Regions from separate parts of the Homo sapiens genome. Here region 1 is linked to region 2. Evidence: fine-mapped expression QTL. Tissue or cell type: whole blood. Region 2 holds a variant in brackets; the other region holds the start of a gene. All regions are shown on one strand. Distances are between the middles of the regions.

Region 1 (4,000 bases), 22 kb before region 2:
AAGGCCACAAGCCATCATAAATATTCAGCTCAATGAACTGTCAGAGTGAAACATCCCTCAGGTCCATATAACCACTCAGGTCAAGAAATAGAACATTTTCGGCAGCCCAGAAACCTCTTCCAAGTACTACTGTATTGCTTTTTAAAGCAATCTTTAAAAAGCATATTTTGAGACATCCAACACATGCGATTATGAGGTCATACTACCAGGAATAGTTACCAAAGCTGTGTTAAATTTCTTTGACTACAATACATCCAAAATAGCATTGTTGAGGACATTTCAGGTCAATGGGTCTTAGCCAAACAGTAAAAATAGTTAGCATTTATTGGACACTTACCATATAGTGCCAGGTATATAGTGCTTTATATATATTACATAATTTAATCCTTAGGCCCACTTTATAGATGAGAAAACTGAGGCAGAGACAAGTTAAGTAACTTTCCCAGTGCCACACAGCTTGTAAATAGGAGAGTCTGGACCCCGAGCCAGGGAGTCTGGCTCCAGAGTCCACAAGCTTAGTCACCATACCATACTGCCCTATCCAGTGGTTTGTTGTTCAAAATAAAGTAAATGAGAGCAAACCCTGTAATATGAGAGACCTTGTAAGGACTCAAATATAAGGTTACTCCCTCTTTCCTGAGGGATGATTTTGGAAAAACAAAAAAGCAAAAACTTCACCCTATATTCAAGCTTATACGGCATTTGCAGATGACTCCCAAATATTTATGTCCATCCCAGACCGCTCCTCTAAGTTGCAGACCTACCTACCCAACCAGCACTTCAAAGTCAGCAGCCCCAAGTCACAGTCATCATCTCCTCATACGAACCCCCTGCAGCCTCCTGCTGCTCCTTTTGTGGAGCACAGCCAGCCTCACCACCATCCATCCACCCAGCTGCCCAAGCGCCGTGGATATGATCAAGGACCCCAGTCTCTCCCTCACTCCTCTTCCAAAATCACACTCCCTTCTTCTTCAGCTGAAACTGTGTTCCTTCTCCACAGAAGTTCCTGATTTCTTTGTGCCATTTGTACACATCTCAAGTCCAGAAAACCTGTTTTTCTCACAGTCTACTCGCAGTCCTAAGGAAGAAGGACAGGAGTCAGAACTCTTCCCAGTTCCTTTAAGATTGCTTGCTCTTTGTCTCTGTCTGATTTCCCCTCTCCCCATATTCTCTCCCAAGTTGGTTTTTTGAGCCCCTTCCCACTTCCCTGCCCGGTTTCCTCCTCACTTAATTTTTCTAGGGAGTATATCGTGAGTGGGACCACCATCCCCAAAGCTCTTCTTTCCAATATCTCCCGATCTCTACCCTCAAATTTGGGATAAAGAGAAAGTGGGGGAAAGGGAGCCTGGGGGTGAAGGAGAGAAAAGAGACAGAAATCATGGGATAATGAAAAGTGACTAACAGGGGAGAAGGCCGAGGTTACGATGGAAGAAGGGGAAGAGACAGCGGGTAGTGAAAAGGGCAGGGGTGAGAAAAGGGAATGAGGAGAAGGCGTGAGGAAAAGGGGATGATGAGGTGAGGCGAAAGACACAGGGAGAAGGGGATGGGGAGAAAGGTGGGGAGAAGAGACGGGGAGAAAGGGATAGGAAGAAAAGGATAAAAGGAGAGGTGGGGAAGGAGAATCTGATGTAAAGAGGCTGGAGAGAGATCAAGCAGAAGGGGTAAGGAGAAGAGAAAGGGGAGAAGAGCTGGGGAGAAAATGATGGAGATGGGGCGAGAAGAAGAGGATGGGAGAAAGGCAGAGGGGAATGGAGATGACGGTTGGGAAAAAGAAGGGGCGAGAGGGAGACCAGGGCACTGAGGGAGAAGAGGGGAATAGGGGATGGAAAGAAGATGGAAGAGGAGGAGGTGAGCAGCAGGGAGCGGCGAGAAGGGGAAGAGACGAGAGGGCGTAGAGAACCGAATGGGAGGAGAGGACGGGAGAAGTGACGGGGAGAAGGGAAGGGAACCGGGACGGGGGCGCGGCGCGGCGCTGGGGCCGGATCCGGAGCCGGGGCCTGGGGCCGGGAAGTGGAGGGGCGGAGGGAGGCCGGGCGGGCGCCGGGGGGAAGGGGGGGCGGCGGCGCGGAGCGCGGGTGGGGGCGGGGGCGGGGGCTCCGCGGGCGGAGGGGCGGGGGCTCGGGTTACCGCGCGGAGGGCGGGGGGAGGGGAGGGGAGGGGGCGCGGGGCCGCGGCAGCGGAGCTCGCATCCTCGGCGGGGCGGCTGTGCAGGAGGCGGCGCCCGGGCGTCAGCGGACGGACCGATCGACGGCCAAGGGCGCGCGGACCGACGGCGGCTGCCCGGAGGGGATCGCGGGCCTCGGAGACAGCGACTGCGGACGATGCGCGGCCTCAGGCCCCGCGCGAGCGGGCGCTGCCCGGGGGGCTGACCGCGGCCGGACGGCGCCCCAGCACCGGGCGAGGGAGCCCGCGTCGCGCGGAGGTCAGTGCCCGCGCCCGCCCGGCCCGTCTGGCCGCGCCCGCCCTGCCCGCCGGCCTCCCCTGGGCTGCGGCAGCGGCGGCGGAGCCGGGGGCTTTGTTCTGAGCCGGAGACAATGGGGGAGGGGGGGCCTGGGCCTGCGGGACCCGGGCGGGCGTGAACGTGAGCGTGGGGGCAGGGCCTGGGGGTCTTTGTGTGCGTGTGTCATCGAGTCGGGGAGGGTGGCGGCGGGAGCGTGCGCCGGGGGTGTGGGGTGCGACAGCGTTGTGTTCCAGTGCATCGTCGGAGTGTGTCAGTGCGTGTCACTGGGAGGTTGTGTGTCCCTGGGCGTCTCTCTGGCTGTGTGTGCATGTGCGTGTCACTCTGAGGGTGTGAGGGTCAGAATGACCGTGTGTCATGGTGAGCGAGTCCCTGTGAGGGTGTGTTGCCCGCTCTGTGGGAGCCCATGTGTCAGAATGTGGAGGATGGGTGTGTGACAGAGACCAACTGAGACAGAGACAAAGAAACTGAGTGGGGAGAAGTACAGAGAAGCAGAGGAGAGGCAGGCACAGCCTGAAGTGGATGGAGGGGGGGGTCACCCAGACGTGTTCTGAGTGGGAGATTGGAGCAACTGGGAGTTTGTGTCTGGGATACCCAGCTCAGAATCCCGTGCAGGGGACAGAGCAAGGTCACCGCAGGCGTGGGTCCCACGTGGAGGGGGTGGGGAGAGGGAGGTCTAGAAGCACAATGAACTCAGTGTGGCGGGCTGGGCCCACAGCCACAAGGTCATAGGCCAGAAAAATATTGTCGCTTATGTCAACTTCTCAAATACCCATAGGGACACAGTCATAGCCCTACTCAACCCACAAGAGGACACAGTCCCAGGGAACACACATCCTCAAGAGATACCCTCACAGCCATCATACACTTCCAGGAAGCCCACCCCCAGGAAGCACCCCCAGTCAGAACCAACACACACCTACAGCAGACTCTATCAAGCCAACACACACCTACGGAAAATGCTCTCATGACAACACACACCCACAGGAGAAATGCTGCAACCAACATACTCCCACCGGTTCATTGTCAAGGCCAACACATACCATGGAAGACATTGTTACTGCTAACACTCTCCAGAAACACTGTCACCAGCAACAAACAAGTAGACCAGCACCTCTCAGGAGACATTGTCACTGCAATCCACATCCATCAGAAGCACTGTCACAACTGTCACAGCACATCTTATTAGGTTTACTTCCTTGGAGCTGCCCATACATAGTGGGTGTCCTAGAAGCCTGTCACTAACAGGAGGCTGTGCCACAGTTGCCCTTACCACACAGCCACTTGTACAACCCCCAGGAGACAGTCATGGATGGCATGCACACCACAGGAAGACCTGTCCCAACTTCTGAATAAACTCTGCTTAACTTATCAAGCTCACACCTTCACCCCTTCTCATACGTAGATCTCCCAGGTATACCCTCTTGTTCCCTGAAAACTTCGAGATCTGGATAGTGTATCCTGCCATGGTTTCTCAGTGTCCTTCAACACCACAGCTTCACAGATTCTTGACCTCCTTAGCTCCTGTTACCTTCCTCCCTC
Region 2 (4,000 bases):
AGTTGTTCCGGAGGCTAAGGCAGGAGGATTGCTTGAGCCCAGGAGTTCGAAGTTGCAGTGAGCTAGGATCACACCACTGCACCCCAGACTGGGCAACAGAGAGCCTGTCTCAAAAATAAATTAAATAAATAAATAATTTATGTTTTGAAAAGTCAAAGCAGGAGGTACACCTGGAAAAGAGGTTGGGATAGGCATATGGAGTAAGTTTCGAGGCTAGTAAGAAGTTTAGAGAGTTCACAGATAAGTGTCTTTCTTTTCTCCTTGAAATAGTGCATCTGATGAGAGCAAGGGATGGGATGGGGGCAAGAGAAGAGGGATGAAGTTTATTATGGCTTTGGGGCAGAATGGGAGAGGGAGCCGACCAAGGTCGGACTGAGACGCTGAGCTGAGAATCTGCTGAAAATGGAGACTGTATTTGCAGTGAAACCTCTGAGCAGGGGTTGTACAGGCCAGGAAATTCACTTCTGCCTTGCTCATTTCCAGTCAGTGGCCCCTGTGCCTTTTGGGGTCACTTCCTGACAACTTCCCCAGACCACTGTTTATTGCTTTCTTCCTGCAGCGAGTCAGAGGGCAAAGGTCGTTAACAGCTTCTGGAGATGGTGCCGCAGCTGTGCTGCTGCCTGCCAGGATTGATGTAGGGGAAGTCTGTCTCCTGGGATATCCGGGCCCACAGCCACAGTAGAGAGTTGGAGCAGAAGCTGTTTCCAGGGTTCAGCCATGGCAGGGTCTTGGTGTCTCTCAGGAGGGTAAACAATGGCACAGATCATTTCTGTCAAGGGTCTGGGCCACAATCAGAAGTCCTTGGCCAGCTTTCTCTCTAAGCACATTTTCTGGCTGAGAAAGGGGAACTCTCCAGCTTCCTCTTGCAGCATATCCTGACCCTGAGGTCCTTATATCCACAAAGAGCGCTTTGTCACAGGCTACAGTTGTCAGCACCAGCTAACCCACTATTGAGGGCCTAATGTGTACCCAATGTATAAAACTTAGTGTGAAAGAAGGTTTTGTTACAAAGCAGGATGATCAGACCGTCGATTTACTCGGTGAAAAAATACACATAAAGCACCTACTATGTACCTTGCACTGTACTAGGCTAACGATGCATGAGCCACACACCCATAAATCTATAGAACAGACCCTATAGTGATCAGATCCCAGTATTAATCAGATCCCACTCTGTAATAATCAAACTCAATAAAGATCAAACCTATAAATCAGTCTCAATAATTCCACTGTCGGTGAGTTCTTGGTTTGGGGTGATTATGAGACTTGGTGAGGGTATTAACTTCCTGGACCCACCTGGAATTTGAGGTCACAGCCCTTTCTTCTTTCTAAGTACAGTTGGTCCTCATTATTTGTGAATTCACTTAATCTCGAAAATTTATTTGTAACTCCAAAATCAATACTAGCATTCCTGGACATGGGCAGAGAGATGAAAAATTTGAGTTACCTAATGTTCACATTCCCAGCACAGGGTGAACAAGACGATGTTCTGCCTTCTCATTTGGGCTCTCATGCTTGTAAACAAATGTCCCTTTCAGGTCTATTTACTGCAACTTTTTTTTTTCATTTTTTTAGTGCAAAAAGCTGATGATTTCACTGTTTAAATGGTCCCCAAGTGTAGTGCTGAAGTGTGGTCTAATGTTCCTCAGTACAAGAAGGCTGTGATGTGTTGTATGGAGAAAATACATATGTTAGATAAGCTTTATTCAGGCATGAGTTACAGTGCTGTTGGCTGTGAGTTCAATGTTAATGAATGAACAATGTATATTAAACATAAGATGTCTTTAAACAGAAACACACATCAAACAAGGTTATGTATTGACCAGCTGACAAAAAATGTTATGGCTAGAGGCACTTAGGAACCTAACTAAATGGTGAGGTACAGGCTGAGGTTGGGTTTGGGCCCATGTCCTACTAGTCCTCTCTGTGTGTCCGCCATCCAGAGACTTAGCACCAGTTGTTCATTCTAATGGCCACCTACCTCTGGCTTTTCTGGCAAAGAAGAGGGGACACCACTCACCCCAGCCTCTCCCTAGGTGACAGCCACAGACGCGGATAGTGGCCCATTTGGCCTCCTCTCCTATTCCTTGGGTGCTGGACTTGGGTCCTCCGGATCTCCCCCATTCCGCATTGATGCCCA[C/T]AGCGGTGATGTGTGCACAACCCGGACCCTGGACCGTGACCAGGGGCCCTCAAGCTTTGACTTCACAGTGACAGCTGTGGATGGGGTAAGTCAGTAGACCAAGGGCAGGTTGGGATGTTGGGGTAGGGCACTCACCAGGGCCAGATGAGGCCCACCTGACCTATGGCTGCATGTCCCACCAGGGAGGCCTCAAGTCCATGGTATATGTGAAGGTGTTTCTGTCAGACGAGAATGACAACCCTCCTCAGTTTTATCCACGGGAGTATGCTGCCAGTATAAGTGCCCAGAGTCCACCAGGCACAGCTGTGCTGAGGTTGCGTGCCCATGACCCTGACCAGGGATCCCATGGGCGACTCTCCTACCATATCCTGGCTGGCAACAGCCCCCCACTTTTTACCTTGGATGAGCAATCAGGTGAGGATCCTCCCATTCCCGGGGCCTTCCCCCAGGTCCCCCTCCCCACCTGCCTAAATGATGTCCTACCCACCTCCTCCATAACCTTTCTAGCCCTATTATGTTTCCTTATATATCTCTGCTTCTATTCTTCCTCTCAGGGCTGTTGACAGTAGCCTGGCCCTTGGCCAGACGGGCCAATTCTGTGGTGCAGCTGGAGATCGGGGCTGAGGACGGAGGTGGCCTACAGGCAGAACCCAGTGCCCGAGTGGACATCAGCATTGTGCCTGGAACCCCCACACCACCCATATTTGAGCAACTACAGTATGTTTTTTCTGTGCCAGAGGATGTGGCACCAGGCACCAGTGTGGGCATAGTCCAGGCACACAACCCACCAGGTATCATTTAGCTTTATACCCACTTGGTGTCAGACCCAAATACCCCAGTATAACCCTCCAGCACCATCCGAAGATACCTTAGAGTATCACAGGGCAGATAGCCCCAGTATAAAACACTCCTGTACCAATGCCCAACACCTCCTTAGGCACAGTGCAGGCACACTGCTTCATGAGGCATAGGAATGTCACCTCAGTGCGTGCCAACCAACTTCTTTGCCAACCCCTGCCCCTCCTCCTAATATTTTGAAAGGCATGGGTGTGGGCACTGCCCAGTCCTTCTCGGGATCAGACTCTGGGTCCTGACTCAATAAGTGCCCCTCCATCTCTTTCCTGATCCCTTTTTCATCCTCCCTAGGTCGCTTGGCACCTGTGACCCTTTCCCTATCAGGTGGGGATCCCCGAGGACTCTTCTCCCTAGATGCGGTATCAGGACTGTTGCAAACACTTCGCCCTCTGGACCGGGAGCTACTGGGACCAGTGTTGGAGCTGGAGGTGCGAGCAGGCAGTGGAGTGCCCCCAGCTTTCGCTGTAGCTCGGGTGCGTGTGCTGCTGGATGATGTGAATGACAACTCCCCTGCCTTTCCTGCACCTGAAGACACGGTATTGCTACCACCAAACACTGCCCCAGGGACTCCCATCTATACACTGCGGGCTCTTGACCCCGACTCAGGTGTTAACAGTCGAGTCACCTTTACCCTGCTTGCTGGGGGTGGTGGAGCCTTCACCGTGGACCCCACCACAGGCCATGTACGGCTTATGAGGCCTCTGGGGCCCTCAGGAGGGCCAGCCCATGAGCTGGAGCTGGAGGCCCGGGATGGGGGCTCCCCACCACGCACCAGCCACTTTCGACTACGGGTGGTGGTACAGGATGTGGGAACCCGTGGGCTGGCTCCCCGATTCAACAGCCCTACCTACCGTGTGGACCTGCCCTCAGGCACCACTGCTGGAACTCAGGTCCTGCAAGTGCAGGCCCAAGCACCAGATGGGGGCCCTATCACCTATCACCTTGCAGCAGAGGGAGCAAGTAGCCCCTTTGGCCTGGAGCCACAGAGTGGGTGGCTATGGGTGC

The links. PIP is the estimated chance that this variant, and not a neighbour inherited with it, causes the effect.
Region 1: DCHS1 starts here. The variant in region 2 is fine-mapped to the expression of DCHS1 in whole blood (TOPMed, PIP above 0.99).

What each region holds. Positions count from the first base shown.
Region 1 is chr11:6,653,985-6,657,984 of GRCh38, reverse strand. DCHS1 (dachsous cadherin-related 1) reads left to right here and starts at 2,176. Exons shown (of 21, transcript NM_003737.4): 1 at 2,176-2,422.
Region 2 is chr11:6,632,343-6,636,342 of GRCh38, reverse strand. It overlaps DCHS1 (dachsous cadherin-related 1), which reads left to right. Exons shown (of 21, transcript NM_003737.4): 3 at 2,037-2,225; 4 at 2,323-2,554; 5 at 2,695-2,931; 6 at 3,287-4,000. Among named protein-coding and RNA genes, the nearest start is that of TPP1, 15 kb to the right of the region's middle. The variant C/T (reference allele first, on the strand shown) is at 2,141.